Regions from separate parts of the Homo sapiens genome. Here regions 1 and 3 are each linked to region 2. Evidence: fine-mapped expression QTL. A gene starts in region 2. Each other region holds a variant in brackets. All regions are shown on one strand. Distances are from middle to middle. Region 1 has its middle 110 kb from the start of CTTNBP2. Region 2 holds the start of CTTNBP2 (cortactin binding protein 2). Region 3 overlaps CTTNBP2 (cortactin binding protein 2).

What was found. PIP is the estimated chance that this variant, and not a neighbour inherited with it, causes the effect.
Region 1: its variant is the best candidate, but not a certain one, in a credible set for the expression of CTTNBP2 in tibial nerve (GTEx, PIP 0.55).
Region 3: its variant is the best candidate, but not a certain one, in a credible set for the expression of CTTNBP2 in thyroid (GTEx, PIP 0.87).

What each region holds. Positions count from the first base shown.
Region 1 is chr7:117,979,445-117,985,623 of GRCh38, reverse strand. No RefSeq gene overlaps it. Among named protein-coding and RNA genes, the nearest start is that of CTTNBP2, 110 kb to the right of the region's middle. The variant G/A (reference allele first, on the strand shown) is at 3,148.
Region 2 is chr7:117,870,225-117,876,403 of GRCh38, reverse strand. CTTNBP2 (cortactin binding protein 2) reads left to right here and starts at 2,963. Exons shown (of 23, transcript NM_033427.3): 1 at 2,963-3,069. The coding sequence starts at 2,989.
Region 3 is chr7:117,808,762-117,814,940 of GRCh38, reverse strand. It overlaps CTTNBP2 (cortactin binding protein 2), which reads left to right. Exons shown (of 23, transcript NM_033427.3): 3 at 3,952-4,176. Among named protein-coding and RNA genes, the nearest start is that of CTTNBP2, 62 kb to the left of the region's middle. RefSeq lists enhancers at 3,532-4,278, 4,279-5,027. The variant G/T (reference allele first, on the strand shown) is at 2,780.

The DNA of each region.
Region 1 (6,179 bases), 110 kb before region 2:
ACAGAGATAAGCAATGGCACTTAAAATCTGATCTTCTTTTTTTTTAATTTTTTTTATTTATTTTATTTTATTATTATTGTACTTTAAGTTTTAGGGTACATGTGCACAATGTGCAGGTTAGTTACATATGTATACATGTGCCATGCTGGTGTGCTGCACCCATTAACTTGTCATTTAGCATTAGGTATATCTCCTAATGCTATCCCTCCCCCCTCCCCGCAACCCCACAACAGTCCCCAGAGTGTGTTGTTCCCCTTCCTGTGTCCATGTGTTCTCATTGTTCAATTCCCACCTATGAGTGAGAACATGCAGTGTTTGGTTTTTTGTCCTTGCAACAGTTTACTGAGAATGATGATTTCCAGTTTCATCCATGTCCCTACGAAGGACATGAACTCATCATTTTTTATGGCTGCATAGTATTCCATGGTGTATATGTGCCACATTTTCTTAATCCAGTCTATCATTGTTGGACATTTGGGTTGGTTCCAAGTCTTTGCTCTTGTGAATAGTGCCGCAATAAACATACATGTGCATGTGTCTTTATAGCAGCATGATTTATAATCCTTTGGGTATATACCCAATAATGGGATGGCTGGGTCAAATGGTATTTCTAGTTCTAGATCCCTGAGGAATCGCCACACTGACTTCCACAATGGTTGAACTAGTTTACAGTCCCACCAACAGTGTAAAAGTGTTCCTATTTCTCCACATCCTCTCCAGCACCTGTTGTTTCCTGACATTTTAAAGATTGCCATTCTAATTGGTGTGAGATGGTATCTCATAGTGGTTTTGATTTGCATTTCTCTGATGGCCAGTGATGGTGAGCATTTTTTCATGTGTTTTTTGGCTGCATAAATGTCTTCTTTTGAGAAGTGTCTGTTCATGTCCTTCACCCACTTTTTGATGGGGTTGTTTGTTTTTTTCTTGTAAATTTATTTGATTTCATTTTCCCTATTTAATAAATGCTGCTGGGAAAACTGGCTAGCCATATGTAGAAAGCTGAAACTGGATCCCTTCCTTACACCTTATACAAAAATTAATTCAAGATGGATTAAAGACTTAAATGTTAGACCTAAAACCATAAAAACCGTAGAAGAAAACCTAGGCATTACCATTCAGGACATAGGCATGGGCAAGGACTTCATGTCTAAAACACTAAAAGCAATGGCAACAAAAGCCAAAATTGACAAATGAGATCTAATTAAACTGAAGAGCTTCTGCACAGCAAAAGAAACTACCATCAGAGTGAACAGGCAACCTACAAAATGGGAGAAAATTTTCGCAACCTACTCATCTGACAAAGCGCTAATATCCAGAATCTGATTCTTCTTTCTCTACTATTTTCTTGTTCCTCTTTTATTTCCTCCACCTGGATATCCCTTCCTTCATTCTTCACCTAACTCTTTCTTGTCCTTGAAGGCAACTCAGGCATCACCTCTTCCAAGAAGCCTTCCTGGATAGTCTGAGCTACGTGATCCTCCTCTGTGCTCTCGGCATACCCCTACCATAGTATTTATCACACTTGCTTAGAAGTGATATTAAGTCCAATGCTAATTCTCATAACTAATCATAGTAATTGTGCGGGAAGAAATGTGTAAACTTGATTTCCCAAGCAAAACAAAATATTAACTATTTTTTGTAAGCAATGTTTCCATGGAAACAAACATCAATATGGCAGGAGGGATTAATTGTCATTATATTTGAAATAATTCAATGTCCTGGTGTTTCTCTCCCATTTATTCCTCTAAAACAGATTCAAGATTCACTTAGAAATCTACTCTTTATATGATGATTGATAAAATTATTACTTGAGCTTGATGGAACTGGAAATGTGCTGCCCATGGATAAAATATCTTTCATTTTCTGCCGTGACTCCTAGACACAATTGCTCCATGCTTTAGAATGAAATTTAAGAAAAAATAATTCTAATGCTAATATTAAGGGTTCTAATTAGATATTACTTCAATCCTCTCTGCTTAGAACAGAATATAGTAGGTCGCAAAAAGGATGTTTTAGTTTTTGTTCCTATTTTCTAATACGAATTGATCTGATTCACGCCAATAAATCCTCCTGACATTTTATAGTCATGGCACTAAATCACTAAAGCATCATGTCAAATGAAAAAGCTGCTGAATGTAATGGTATTAAATGATGATTTTTAGGTCTTGTCACCAACTTTAAAATGTGTTATTGATAAGGCATTGGATTTATATGTTAATGGCTATATTTCACCAGTCCTGCCTAATATGTCTCTGCTGCAGTCTATAGCAAAAAATGTTATTAAACCTCCAGGGTCGCTTTGACTGAGAGAAGTTTTGAAATAAATCAATAAAAATGAGCACGGCCTATTTTCTGAGCATGGCACATCATACTCAGAACAGCATGGCTGTTTGACAGAATGGGCACGGTGTTTGCTTGTTTTTAATCCAGTAATATCCCTTAATTTTTGCAAACTGTGGAAAGCAGTGTGACCGACCCTAGGAAATATATTCAGTTTTTTCATGCACAGAATGAGGCATGCATGAAGGGCTAAAAGGAAGAAAAATGCATCTTGAAGAGTCAGTTGTCCTCCTTTTTGAAAAACGAGGCTTTTTTCTTTTTTTATTTTAACATCAAACCGAGAGTTCTCTAAGGAGTTTTATATAACAGCAGTGCCAATCAGTCAGATGTGGCTGTTACTGGACATAATTGTTTTATATTATTATGATTTAATTTGTAAACCTCAAAAAGTTTAAAGTTTAAGGAAGTGAATGAGTAACAGCTATATTGCATCACGTTAGCTCTGAAGGACTTCTAAAGAACATAAAGTAGTTCTTCATAAAGTTACTCATTGCTGGTACCTAAAGATGGCATGAGATAATTGACCTCCCATTACAGTGTCCTACCTTTTCTCCCATCCCTAAGCCTGGCCCACTTGCCCTAATCAGCCGCCGTGCACATTCTGCTCTGTACCTCTGCTTCGGGAGAGAACAGCTTGACCTGAGCTGTGACACGGCTTCCTCAGCCTCCTGGTAATTATTTTGATGTTTAAATGCTGTGTAAAGTCAAACAGGAAGGGTTTTATGATGTTTTGCTGGGAGGATTTAGTGCAACTGCAGTGCGCTTTGCAGATTAGCCTGGGACTGTCTGTGTGGTTCTCTGCCTAAG[G/A]AAGGAAGAATCTAAGTACACAGACAGATCTTTTAAATGCAATTTCCAGAAACTTCTAGTGATACACTGGTAAACACTTTGTAACATTTGTTTATTCAGCCGGTGGGAAATCCTGCTAGAAACCCACACTCTGATTGTCATAGAGAAACATTACATTTGATATCAGGAATAAGCTCTTCCCACAGGAGCGGAATTTCTTAGATGCAGGGTCAGCATATTCTCACAAATAGCAGCTTGATCAAACCCATTATTCTTAGTCCTCATAACATGAAAATATGCTTAATTGTTGATTGAGAGTTTAATTGATGTGCCCTATTTCAATTTCACACATACAGAGACTTTTATATCAAAAGTTGTTTATCCAAGTGTCACATTTCCCGATGTTACAACATAGACATTATTTTAAAATGAGGGAAACCAGTTTAACAAAAGCATCCACACCATTTGAGATATAATTTGGGAAGGCTGCTTTGCTGGAGAGCTCTAGTGTGGGTAGAAGCAGGACCCCAGTCAACACAAGGCAGGAGCTTCTCTGATGATCCACATGAACCTGGCAGGGTTCACAGTGGCGATGGCCAGTCCAGAAAGGGAGCTGTGCAGCCTAGGGAAGGACAGTGAGCCTTGAGCTGGGGGCCCCGAGTCAAGGCTGTACTTATAAAGCTGTAAGGAAGGTTATTTCAGGAGCAAGTGAGACTCTGTTATTTTGAAACAGGGAGAGCACCTTCAGACTGAAAAGACCAGGCCTGAAACATTGATTCCTACTCCCCAACAGCATAGCCGCAACCCCTTCACCCAGAACCCTTTGCCCCACTGGCAGAAGCGGGGGCTTCCAGAAGAAATGGCAGAATACACCTTACTGGATGTCCTCCATTTGGAGTTCCACAGTCCTCAAGGTCCAGATTTAAGTAAAAGAACTTTAGTTCAGGCAGAGAGCACAATGTGAGTAAAGTGCTGGTGGCAGTTAACATACGAAATGCGGGAGGGTCCCAGGAACTGGGGCAGATGGAGATGGCTGGAATGTTGGGCACCGGGGTGGAGCGGGGGTGAGGGGATGGTGCAAGAAGAGCCTAGGGTGGAAGATAAGGATGGACTGTCTATCTAGTGTTGCCAGATAAAATAGAGGGTGCCCAGTTAACTTTGAATTTCAGATAGACATTACTTTTTTAGCATAAGTATGTCCTAAATATTTCACAGGACATACTTATACATTTAAAAATCCAATGTTTAAAATTCAAATTAGCTAGATATCCTGTATTTTTTATTTGCCAACCTGGCAACCCTACACACATGCCATACCAAGAGCATGGACCTCTCTGCATGTGGAGAGTGCATTGGTAGGTTTTAAACAATGCAACCTCTTGATCAAATCTGAGCACTCTGTCAGCAGCAAGGAGTGGAAGAGTGAAGGTAAATCAGAGAGTCTGAGACTAATATTAGTGTGGAGGATCTTGAGGAAATTTTTTTAAAAGTGAAAGAATTCATCAAAAAGAAATAAACCAAAAAATATGCCATTGTAGATCAGAGTAGTTATCTATTCAGTCCAATATTCTGTCTCCCAGTAGTGACAAGTAACGCTTTGTAAAAAAGAATGACATGGTCAGAAAAACATCAGTCTCAAGTCTGGAGACCTGGCTTTCAGCCCTTTTGGGCCATTTGAACTCATACAAATCAAACATAAGTCATCGAAGGAGCTGAGCATCCTCAGTATACACAGGCTTCTATATACAAGTTTCTATTTTATTCTCACATATTAGGGACATTTTTCCCAAAATCCCCTAACACATTAAGAAGGTTTTCTAGTCTCAAAGCACGAAAGAGATAAGGTTAAAAGAAAGCGATTTATTCCCACCCTCAGAATCCTCTCTTCGTCTTCCGCATCAAATCTCTTCCTAACTCATTCAGGACTCTGCACTAGGCTGCTGTTTCTACTTCTCTTCCCTCTCTGCTTCACAACTGACCTGCTCTTGTGTCCTCCTGCCTGGTAAATCCATTTGCTCTTTATTTTCTGGAACTTTAAGCCTCTGTGTGTGCTTTTTGCCTACCTAGAAATATCATTTTACCCCACCTTCCCCACTAAAGCTGCTTGGTCTCTTTCTTCTGCTTAAAGCTCACTTCTTTCATGAAGTGGTTCTTAGTCAGTCTCACCTGTTTGTAGTATCGGTCCATTCACGTGACTCATCTCAGGTTATAATGTGCTTATACAAAATTTAAGCCTAAATTCCTCTATGTGACTGCCTTTTCTTCTAGGGTTATTAGTCATATCATTCTGTACCTTCATCCCTTGAAAACCAAATGGTCCACCCCTCCCTCTCTACCAGGTAGGGTGTGTGAGCTCCTTCATGTTTCTGTTCCCATAATATGTATTACAGAGCTATAGAAGGTAGGCGTCAAATAGATTTTGCTGATCTCCTAATAGTAATGGTTCATTTATTAAGTCAAAAGTGTGCCCTGGCTTGAATAAGTTAAACAAAGCCTAACGTAGTCCAAAAAGCCATTTTTCTTTGAGATTGGCTTACAAGAAGATGAGATGACTCATTAACAAAATGAGCAAGAGAAGCTTGGCCCAAAGATGAAATGGCCATGACAATAGCTTAAAATGTATGAAAAATACAATGCCAAGAGTTTTTATTGCAGAGTAATGAAAACATCTGGTGTAAAATTTTAATGTGTGGTCATACTCTTAAGAGAGAGCGATATCAGAAACATTAAACAGTAGATGAAAAAATGGAAAATTTTTGAGGTAATTTTAATTTCAAATTCAATAGATTAAACAAGCAAATGATGGCATTTTTAAAAAATGGTACATAGTTTATTTTTCCTCTATTCCTAAAAGCGTACGGCATTATCTGGGTTTTTCTGAATAGGTAGGATGTGTCTGTTATGATCCAGCCATGAAGCAGAAACCATTTTGAATATCAAAAACAGATGAAATGAAATCTAGGGAACTTGTTCCACAGGGAATAAGACCTAGAAGGACCAGCAAGGCAACCCAGGAAGCAACTTTCAGGAAGCCACTCTCTTCTCTAAAGGGA
Region 2 (6,179 bases):
ATGGCTGATGAAGCCAAGGACATGGTTTAATCAGAAAACCACTTGGCTCCCAAACATCTGTCTGCATTCCCACCTTTAAGAACTCATTTCCCTGGTCATTTCACCCTTAGAGAGTGTGCTATAGCTCAACACAAATACCTCTATTCCAGGGTTTGGAAAATAATTACCCTCAAATTCTTTAGTCAGTGGGTCATCAGCATCGTTATGATCCAAAAAAAGGATGTAAATAATAGTTTTCTCTATTTGCAATATATTCAGTATTACTCCTTCCATTTTAATGCCAAAAGGAATTTACTGATTAAGACTCATGATTCATTTTTGTTGTAGGGATTTATTTTCCTCCTGTTTATACTTCTATCTTTCTCCTTTTTTACCCTGCCTTTCAGTAATTTTCACTGTAACCCTGGGATATCTTTTATTTTTATTATTAATTATTATTATTATTTAGCTGTTTAATGAGGCTTCAAAAGATTTAATTTCTGGAGCCATCAAGTCAATACCCTTTCACATCTATTTGCTTTGACTGTAATAGAGCCTGCCTTTGTGCAAAGAAAGTCTTAGAAAGAGTTAATTTGCAATAGTAGCAGAGACTAATTCTCAAGAGAGAATTGAAACCAGCAAGTGTCCTCCTGGTGGAGAAGCAGCCCCAGGCCAGGCTACTAGTGAGGAAGTTAACTCCTAGTGTGCCACTTCTGTGCAGTAGGTGAGATCCTCAGCCAACCTTCAACAGTGCTGGTTTTAAGGTGGAAACAGAATGCTGTCAATTCTCCTTCCCAGGTACTGGATTTTGGTGGTTAGAGAATGTGGTGTCCTGTGATTTTTATCACTGTTTTATTTATTTTTTTTCCATTTCACAAAAACAAACAAAAAATGATGGGTGGGGGTTTGCGGTGGGGGGGGGGGGTGGGCAAGGACTGATTTCCTTGTAACATGATCCTGCTTTAATTGTATTTAGGTGAATACAAGCTAATTTTTTCCCAGTGATTTTTTTTTAAAAATTGGGCTGCATGTATAAAAGGGATTTGCTTCCCAGAGATGGTGTCATTTCATATTTCTAACTCTTAACCCTGAGTAAAACTTATTATTATTATTTTTTCCAGAAGTTTGCCAGTTAATTGCTTGAGAAGTATTCAACATCAGAATCAAGAAAATTGATTGCCTTGCAATGTGTGGAAGTGCATTTTGAAAAGAACAAGGAATGCCCTTGGACTTTAAATTTTTACTATCAGTTTGACATCTAACTTTTACTGTCCAGTGGTTTTCTTTAATCTTAAAGAAATCTAGTTATTCTAATATTGAGCAGTTTTAGAGAGTATACTTAATAAAGGAAAGTGGTATAATGAACAGGGATGGATATTAAAGGGATAAGTGAGGGAGTAACTATCAGAGCCAATATAAATAAATAAATAAATAAATAAATAAGTACCTGTACTCACAGGATAACCTGGAGATGATTTCTAAGCCTCTGACTTTTAGCCCCAGAGTTCTAGGTAAAGTTCTTTCTTGACCTCTCTTCTGGGAGGGAACTTTTCACAGTTTATTAATCAATCCCTTTCAGGGTCTTTGCAGAAAAGATTTTCTCTGCCCTGGTTTGTGTCATATTTGGGTCTAATTTGGAAAGTGGAGCAATTAAAGAGTCAAAACCTTTCATTAGGAGCCTGCCATTAAAAAAAGAAGAAAGAAAGAAAGAAAGAAAAAAGGAAAAAAAAAAAAAAAGCTTTGATCTGTAACCCTTGGACTGAACATTCTAGTCATTCATCTTCCAAAATTTCAAGTGCAAGATTTGGTTGTGGTTTGATTTTACGTCTTTGAGACACAGCTTGAATGTCTCAATTTGATTTTATGCATTCGACACATTTTTAGGGATCTGGTGATTTGGGAAGGGCTGTACCATATGGTCTTGGTGAGGTGATAGATTTTCACATTCTGGAAATTGGCAGCAAAGGGTAGGAACTGAATTAGATGTGGAAAGGGAAGATTAAGCGTTTGGGCCTAATTCACTCATCTCATGAAAAATCTTCTGAGACGTGTAATTCCCATAAAATCTATTTTTACAAATACGGCTTTTGTTTGATTGTTTTTGGTGTATATGTACACGTGTCCTCACACGTAGGGAGTAATTTTTTTAAATTCTCTCAAAAGTAGAGGACATGACATTTAGCTTTTAAAGCTATGACATTTAACACTTCTCAGTTAGTCCTTCAGGAGAGATCTCAGACTTAGGGGGGTCACAGAATATAAAACAGCCCGCTACACATTCCCTGAAAAGGAGATTGTATAGAAAGTTAGGAGCTGAGGGGCTGGTGCCACGTTCTAAAAGAAAACAGGACAGACAAATCGTTTTCATCTGAGAATTGTTTTTGGAGAAACACTAGAGTCAACGATAGAATAAATCAGAGCCAGGTGTGTATATATATAGGGAGGATAAAAACACCCTGGCGGCAATGAAATTTAAGAAAGAGCAATTTAAGAAGAAAGGGGTGCCCTGTGTGATTCCTCGCGGTGGGATAGAGGGAGCTGAAGTGTAGGATTTTCCCTGATCTTTCAGAGAATTCAGATTCAGGAGGCCTGACATTTAATCTGGTCTGTGCACGGATTTCTCCGGCTTGGTTGGGGTTCTGCGGAATGCAACGCTCCTCGGGCGCTTTCTGCCTTCACCTCTTCCGTGGTCTTTGATCCCCAGTCCCCGCGCAGGGCCGCAGCGGAGCCAGGTCGTGCGCCCATTTCTCGCACCTCCACGAGCCCGCGGCTGGCGCCACCGGGCGCGGGACGCGGGGCGCGGGGCGGGACCGAGGCGGGGCGCTCCGGCGCGCAGCGGGTTAAGCGGCGAGGGCGGTGGCGAGGGGCGGAGGGAGTGCCGCGGCTCCCGGCTCCCGGCTCCAGGCGCCCGCGTCCCGGACAGCAGCGGGTTAAGTGCCGCCCGCGCGGAGACGGCTGAGTCCGGAGCCGCGGCTCCGAGCTCGCATTCGGATCCGCTAGAGCAGGAAGATGGCGACGGACGGCGCGAGCTGCGAGCCCGACTTGTCCCGGGCCCCGGAGGACGCGGCGGGGGCCGCGGCGGAGGCGGCGGTAACCGAGTTCCCGGGGCGGGCGCGGGGCTAGTGTAGACGCGGGCCGGGGGCGGCGCCGGGGTCCCAGCCGGACCCGACTTCGCACCCCCGGGGCGTTCCGTAAGCCCGGGACTCTCCGGTGCCCCTTCATCGGGGCCCCCCTTCCTCGGGATGCCCACACGGCGGAGGCCGCGGGGGGGAGCGGAGCGGCCACCCTGGCTGGGGATCCCTCCTGTCCCTTCCGCGCCCCACGGGAAGCGGCCCCGGGTCGCCCGGTTCTCCCAGCTCCCTGTCTGCGTCCAGTGCGACCCCTATGCCCACTCCCTCCGCTGCGGTCGCTTCTGGCCGGGGGAGAAGGCTGGGACGTGTTTCCTGGCGAATTTGACCCCCCATTGTTCACCTCTCGCTGCGCGCGTGGTTGCCAGCGCGTGTCTCGGGGGTGCCTGGTACCGCTCAGCGGACCCGGGAGAGCAGCTTGGGGGAGGTGGGCCATCGCCCAGCAGGTGTGGGGATGCCCATTGTGTGCATCTGGTCCTGTGCCTTCGGGAGGCCCACTGGGAGAGGGCCGTGTCCAGATGTGGGCGCTGCTGCCGCTGAGGCCAGCGCTTTAGGTCCTAGCAGCCTGCTGCCCCATTACTTGGTGGTAGTGATTGGGGTGGGGTGGATGGATTGGTTCTTCCCGAGACGATGCTCAGGAGAGGTGGAGGTTCTGCACCTGGTTTCAAGACATTGTTCTCCTTCTCTGGAGTCTAGAGGCCGAATGCGCTACCATTCTTGACTGGTCCTTACTTTCACCCCCTTAATATTCCGGTGTAGAGACTCGCTGGTGGTTTCCAGCCTCTACTTTGGGGAAGGGCTGGACCCACATTTCCTGGGTGGAAAAGGTTCTCGGTGTTTGGGAAGCAGCTTCGCAGGAGCTGCAAGGAGCTGCAGAGAAAGGCAGATCTGGGAGCGCCTCCCACTCTTGGCCAGATCTGGCTGCTCCCGCCGAAGGATGGGGTGGGATGGAGCGAGCGGGGCGTGGACGCCCCCCTCTTCCTATCAAGACCTGAGCAGAATCAGTGCAGGAGAGGGCAGGGCCGGGCGTAAACAGCGGGGGCCGCTTTAACTTCCTCCCACCCTCTGGAGGTAGGGCTTTCTGGAGAGGGAGAGGAGAGATGTGGAGGAAGGTACTTGGGGTGAGAGGAGCTGAGCCTGGCAATGGAAGGAGAAACGGGGAGGAGGACTGCTAATTTCCACTTGTAAAACTGGCAAGTTTTGATTTGAACTTTTGGGAAAATTGAGTTTCCATTCTTTGCATAGAAAATGAGAACTTTAAGATTTCAAACGAAACCTGCCCACTTATGTGAATCAGCTCCCCTCTGTGGGGCACAGTAAGGAAACTAGCTATTGAGACAAGGCTCTCTGGCAAGTGGAAATGATTTGGTGCCTTCATCCCCAAAAGGTGGGAAGGGGAAGGACGAGGAAAAAGAAAGAGGGTGTGTGTGTGTGTGTGTGTGTGTGTGTGTGAAGGGGAAGGACGAAAAAGAAAGAGGGTGTGTGTGTGTGTGTGTGTGTGTGGTGTGTTTCTTGTTCCCCAGAAAGGTTGAATTTGTTTACTTAATCCACTCAGAATGGGTTTCTGTTACCCTCAATATTTTAATCACCTGACAATTAACCCAAACACAAACATCTGACTGATGGTCTGTAGAGCTGATATATAGTTTTGTTTGGTTAGATCGTAAACAAAACCCAGGACGCCAGGCAGATTTCTGTGTTAACAAGGTCAGTGTTCCCTCTCTTCTGTTTAAAATGTTCAAGTCTGATTTTCACTGCTGATAGTTGGGGATTTGATAATTTCACCCTTGTTAATGGGCAGAGCCATGGAAAATCTGCGAAAGTGAACCTTCTTTGCTATTTCCATAGAATCCTTTAGGGTTGCGAGATGCAATAAGGATTCTTCATCTAGTAGTTTAAAAACCAGTAATAATTTCTGAATTTTTAGTAAAATTTTGATGATGGCTTTTGTAGTAAATTGGGCCTTTTATTTTAGTTCTCCAAATAGTTTTGACTTAATAAGGCATGGTTCTCTCATATCAGCCGCTTGACCTATAGACTGATTTTTAAGTGAAAGGAAAGCTAGTGTAGAGGAGTGATATGTGTCATCACAATTGCTCCTTAAAAATCAGAGGCGTTTTATGCATTTTGGGTTCTTGTTGACTGATATTTTTTATTTTAGTGAACAATTCACTTTGCATTTTGGAGATTTGTTGACTTTCAAATTGGTTTACATATCGTGCATTTTTATGTATACATTTGGCAGTAAGGAGTCAATGGAAGCTCTAAAGCAGTAGGCTATTTTTGAAAGTGAGTGTTTTCACTAAGCTTTGACTATTTAGATTGTTGCTTAGAAACAAGCTTAATTTATAGTTTTCAGTTTAATATCATTTTTAGTGGAATGTTTTAAATTTAGTTTGTGATCCTCATTCTTAGCTGTTTAAATCCTGAAAGCATCCCAAGTTTAAGGCTGGGTAACAGCTACATTATTCAATAGGATCATATTAATAGTCTTTGCCGTGAACCGTGCCGGGAAACCTGGGCTATTTTCAGTGCCTTAGCCAAATGTGATGACTTTTATAGGCCATATTGCTGTTTCCACTCTGAAAATAACTCCTAATGGATAAGGCAGTATGGAAAACGAAATCTTCATGCTTTTTATTGTCACCAAAGAATTTTGGAATGAAAGGAAAATGGAGATCTTTTTAGAGCTATATTTGGGAAGCCAACCAACATTCTTGTCATTCTGAGCTTTTCTGGAGCAGCTAATAGACAAGAAGTAGGTATAAAATTTGTTGTCATGGTGGCAGTGACAAAGAAAAACTTGGACAATGATTTAAAATGCACGACAGTGATGTTAAACAAATTAACAGCTGAACTTGAAATTTTTGTTTTCCAGGTGACAGTATTGAATGTAAATGCACTGAAAAGAACTTTCGTAGCCAATTGCGCTAAGCGTTTTTTTAAACTAAATTATAGTTACGTGGCAGCTATAGAATGTTGAAAGTGTTGCAGCTTAATTTTTAAATAGGAAATAACGTAGATTTAACACACATTACTGAACACTTACTGAGATACAGGCATCATGAGTAT
Region 3 (6,179 bases), 61 kb after region 2:
TGTCTAAACTCAAGGTGTCTTAAGCAACAAATAATACTGCTTCATTTCTCTCATTTTGACAACTAAAGATATCAGCAACACAGTTGCATAGCTAGTTAGCAACAAATACAAAGCCACTGTTTTTACCCTTAAAGGAATCTAATGTACATATTTTATACTTCGTAAAGGCTAAATGTCAGTCCATATTTGTGAAGCAAATAAATTGGTGGTTTTAGGCTGTCACGGAGGCTCACTCCTGTAATCCCAGTACTTTGTGAGGCTGAGGCAGGAGGATTGCTTGAGCTTAGGAGTTCAAGATCAGCCTGAGCAACATAGTGAGACTTCATCTCTACCAAAAATTTAAAAATTAGCTGGGCGTAGTGGCACGTGCCTATAGTCTCAGCTACTCGGGAAGCTGAGGTGTGGGAAGATCACTAAAGCCTGAGAGTTCAAGGCTACAGTGAGCCGTGATCACGCCACTGCACTCCAGCCTGGGTGGCAGAGCAAGACCCTATCTCAAAATAAATAAATAGGCAGTTTTATGTTTATGAACCTGTACATGTATTGTTATACAACATTTTCAGCAGAAAAAAATTCGTCTGCATTTAACAGTGTCACAATATGACTCAGTTAAAACTAGTAATTTTAAAATAAAAAAACACAACAAAAATACACATGTAAAAAACTATTTCACACCAGTAAGAAAAAAAAAAAGAATTAAATGCTTTTTGACCATAAAATCTGTTGGGTAAAACTGGAACTAGGTCTGTGATATATGTATTTACCTCTCATATTATACAAAAAATTAATTTTAATTTTTAACCCACTTATCAAAAAGTTTACTCAGACTTAATAACCTGTGTGTTAAGAAATTGCTTGATTAGTGTTACAAGTACTGTACATCATAAAATATGTTGTGTGGGTGAGTAGACACCAGGTAATTACAATGAGTTGTTAAAATGTCAGTTTCAGCAGATAACTCATCATAATAAATATCAGATACCAAAGTGAGGAACAAGATGCAAATTATTGTAAGAAATATTTAAAAGCTAGTGTTGACTTTTAAACCTTTCATCCACATTGAGGGTATAAAATAATGTAGTTTTTGGAGATTAAAGAAAGATTTCTATCAGAGAGCATTTCTCTGCAGAGAATTGTGCTGTGAGTCCTGCCTCATCCAGTTGCTTCTCCCTTCATCTGAAGAGAAAAGGGGTTCAGAGAGACTTTTGAATGACAATAGGTTTTTCCTGCAGATCTTGGTGGGCTCAGTGGAGGTGGGGCTGAACAAGCAGTCATTCTGCAGACGTGAAGGAGAGATAGACGCGGAGATCTTATTGTAGAGACTCCCAGCTTTTGTTTAGATAAAGATCCATGAGTGTTTCCTGTAGACCATGTTGGGCCATGGTCTTGAAATGGTAGGAATGAGATTGATTCAGGTCCTGTTCAATAGGGAAGTCTGGAGAGAACATGGGACCTCAGTTGTCAAAAGGTGGATTCCAAATGCTAATGAGAGTATGCAGGGCTTGGCTTCATGGGTGTGCAACCTGTACAGTCGCAAAGGCCATGCATTTAGAAGGGCCCCTTGTCTGGTTAAATGCTGTGCTGTTGCCATATTGAAATGCTTAATAATTTTGAACAAAAAGCCCATGTCTTCATTTTGCAGTGGGTCCTGCAGATTATGTAGTTTGTCCTACATTTATGGCCTACATTGAAGAAACTGTAGATGAAGGGGTCCCAGCAGTGCAAAAGGGGGTGTTCCTCTAAGAAATCACCAGGCACTTCATGGGAAAAGAATAGACTTTAAATATTCTTCACACTGGGTTGGTAAAGCTAGCTGACCACCTGAACCAGTCCGGTACGACATTCCTGCTCCCTTCACCTCTCCTGTATCATCTACCTCCAGTCCTTTCCAACCCAGAGGTGACTAAAACAGCTTAGAAAGAGGAGGAGAAGGTTTTGGGAAAAGGAGAGAGGTTTTCATATATACCTCTTTGCTGAGTGGTAAATGTTAGCCTGCAGCAGATGCTAGCTGATGAAGGAAGCTGCCGTACCACCGAATGAAGATGGACATTCTAATAATCAAATAGAGGCTATTTTGGCTCAAAGTGACTGTAGGTCTTTTATTAAATTAAAACGATTAGGAAAAAACATAGAATTATCCAAGTGTTAATCCAAGGGTGGGAGAAGAACTGCTACACTGAATAAATATTAAGAAAAATGTGAAGGGCAAAATGAAATTGCTTTTGAAATTGCATCTCTCAAGTGATACTTATTCAGTGTATTGATTACATGATTGAATTTAAAGAATCTAGAAACACCGAGTGCTTTTAGCTCATAAACCTTACCTTTTAAGTTTAAAGTGGTCTTCTGAAAGCTAGCTTAAATTTAATTGTGAAACTGGACTTTTTGTAAATTTTATTTATTAATCTAAGTTGATGATAAGGAAAGAAATGTTAGATTTTTCCCATTTGTCATTAGATTTGTGTTTATCTAGTTGTTGGCTTGCTGATAGTGGCCTAAAATGGAAAAGTGTAGTTTTCCAATTCAGTTCCCTTTAAAGTATGGAACTGTATGCATTAATAATATTTCTTCAGAAGACATGTTTAATGTTTTGGACAAATAAGCTTGATTTATTATAACTTAATTTTTTTACTGGCAGTGACATAGATTTTTTTTCATTCTAGTGGCTATTCCAAAATGACCTGAATTAGGAAAATGTTGCTAGCTTTTAATACATTTCTACTGCTATTTTCCATTTTTATGCAATGACTTTGTAGGCTAATTATAGAAAATTGCATTT[G/T]GTCCTCATTGCGTGGGTGTGAAATTAACTTTGTCGCTGATGGACTGACATTTAGAGTATAATTAAGTTGCATACTTTCCTGGGATTCTGTGAACTATATTTTAATGCCCTTCAGTGAGAAAGAGATAGATGCCTTTTAAAGTTTTTTGAAGGCTGTTGTAGTTGGTCAAATTTTACAAACTACGAATATTGTTATTTATTTTTACATTAAAAATTTTAATTTTTTTAATTAAAATTTTTACATTAAAATTTTAATTTAATTAAAATTTTTACATTAAAATTTTAATTTAATTAAAATTTTTACATTAAAATTTTAATTTAATTAAAATTTTAATTTAATTAAAATTTTTACATTAAAAATTTCACAAAGAATTTTCTTCTTACCAGACATCCATGTGATTTCCTTCTGGCTATAAAAAACCTATAGGGGATTTTTTGTATGCGTGATTTAACCTGATATTATTTTAAATGTAAGTTCTATCGATATAGAGATAATTTTATTTTTGAACTTTAGCTAAAAATTATTTTAATTGTCAATATTTCTGATTTTACATTAAATTAGAAAAGACTAGGTGGGGCATGGTGGCTCCCAGCACTTTGGGAGGCCAAGGCTGGGGGATTACTTGAGCCCAGGAGTTTGAGACCAGCCTGGACAACAAAGTGAGATCCCATCTTAATTAAAAAATCAAAAAAATTAGCTGGGTGTGGTGGCATGCACCTATAGTTCCAGCTATAAGACAGGCTGAGGCAGGAGGATTGTTTGAGCCCAGGAGGTTGAGACTGCAGTGAGCTGTGATTGTGCCACTGCATTCCAGCCTGGATGACAGAGCAAGACCCTGTTGGGCGGGGTGGAGGGGTGGGGGTGTAAAAAAAGACTGCTGCTTAAATTCTGATCCTTGAGGAGTAGGGCACCATAGGAAATAACTATATTTGCATCATTTGTAATGTAAAATTCAATATTCTTGAAGAAAATTTGAAAGCAGATGGAATGGCATTCCAGGCTAGTGGAGACTGGGGGTCACATTTGCCTCTCACTCACCACTGACATCATAAGCCATTACTCACAGCAGTTGAGAATACCATTTGGAAGTATAATCACAAAACCTTCTTATAAATATCTTTCTGTATATTTTCATTTCTTTCTTCAATACATTTCTCTAATTTTGTTCCAGGCTCGCAGGAAGGAGGTATTTATCCAGGAACGGTATGGGAGATTTAATCTAAATGACCCGTTCCTGGCACTCCAGAGAGACTATGAAGCAGGTGCTGGTGACAAAGAGAAGAAGCCAGTTTGTACCAACCCCCTCTCCATCCTTGAAGCAGTCATGGCCCACTGCAAGAAAATGCAAGAAAGGATGTCCGCACAGCTGGCTGCTGCTGAGAGCAGACAAAAGAAGGTATTGAGGCGTTCAAATGGTCATTTTCCCCACAACATGGTGTCCAATGAGGAGATCACCTCCAAAGTTGTTTGTTCTTCAGTATTATATTTTCAGACAGGATTGCAATAAGTACTTAGAAGTGCAAGAGGCTGACAGATTCTTTAAGCCAATGTAACCTAGTGTTTAAAGTGTAACTCAAAATAACACTAAACCATAAAGGAAGTATAACAGAAAAATTATGTTTCTGATAATGGTTACTTTGATACTTTCTTTAAAATCTCTCTCTATATATATGTTTTTGGACTTCCTAGTGCCTTCTAGAAAACATGCTTAGCTGCTAGGTAGGTTAATCCAGTGATGCAACCAGGACTCTTTGATCATATAGTAACATCCCAACTTACTGTATCTAGCTTCTGTCTAAAATAGTTATTTGCAATTAGAAATTATTTTATTATTTCTTAATTTTGGCGGGGGGAAATGAAAATAACATGAAGAAAATGGAATGCATGTTTGCGTGGTATGTCCAGTCTCACAATGTGTCATCTTAAAGTCCTGGTTAGTGTCAGACTCACCTCTGGGGTGTGATAGCTGTGTCAGCTGCAGACCTCAAGCCTCCTGCTCACATGTGTTTCATTTAAACCAACCTCCTCCTCCTCTCCCCCTCCCCCACCATCACACACATATTCCTTTCACTTGAGTATCTGCTTCAAAGAGTACAAAGTTCAATGAAAACTTGTGGTGATAATAAGGAAATAAGTAAATAGAAATTTAAATTTTGCCCTTCTAATATGCTGCCAAGACTATCGATGCCTTTTATTAGAAAAGAGAGTGAGAAAGCTAGAAGCTCATGCTGTGTGGTTTGATTAAAATTAAAACTAATATGTTCTCTCCACCATTATTATTAAAGCATAAATTAAAATGTTTCTTTTATTTGGCCTCTTCAGAGAACTTCTGATATCTCATATGTAACACCTAGTTGATGGTTAACCTGAATGCACTATACTTATAAATATTTATGATACATATTGTCATTTCATGCGTGTCTTTTCCCTGAAATTTCATCTTTACATTAACATATAAATGTTAGTGTTCTGGTGTAGGTGCTGCATAAAAGGAAACATTTTTCTCAGTATGTTGCATGGTAGAAAACTAAAGCACTGAGTAAAAGAAAAATAGAAGGCTTTCCATAGATGTAAGGCAAAATCAGAATTTTACTCTGGACTCTACAAAGCCCTGCAGACAACCACTAAGATATGTGGAGGTTTTCAAAACTCCCCACAAACCACATACACAAGAGCCAATGAATTTCAGCTGATGTCACTGAAACTCATTTGTATTTCTTGGATGGGATACATTTCAATTATGCCTGTAATGTGTCAAATGAGTTATTTCATAATAAATTATTTCTGCTGGACTTTATATTGTGTTATAAAAAATTAAGAAAACACTTTGTTGTCATTGAATATATAAAAAACACTTTCCTAAAATTTTACTTCTGTTCTGCCTTTAACAAAACTCATTTCTCTTTTAGGAGAAAAAAAGAACACTTCTAGTTGGATCAAAGATTTTATTATCTAGCTGATTTTTTTTTTTTAAATCAACTTACATCCTGTTTGTTTCTGAATGACTGGGTCATTTCCAACCTGGCTGATAGTGAAAGGAAATTGTTTCTGTCCTATGGGTCCTGAGAGGCTAATATAAAATGAGCCAGTGGTGTGTCTCCCATGTATAATGGGAATACAGGAGTCCTTTATAGCCAACTTCATTGGCTGTGTCGTCTCAGTGAAGGGTTTCTCTGACAGGGAGTGCTACATTTTGTCCTTAAAAAATATTATATTTTAGTAGATTATAGTGTATGCGAAGAGTTATAATTTGTACTCTTACCCTGTGTCTTAAAAAGAAAATACCGTATCAGCTGATGAAAGCAGAAACACCAAAGTCATCTCTTTAACAACAAAATTACCTGTCACCTTTAGTCCTCTGAAAGCAAATATTTTAACCAAATGTCTTCAGTTCCCTCG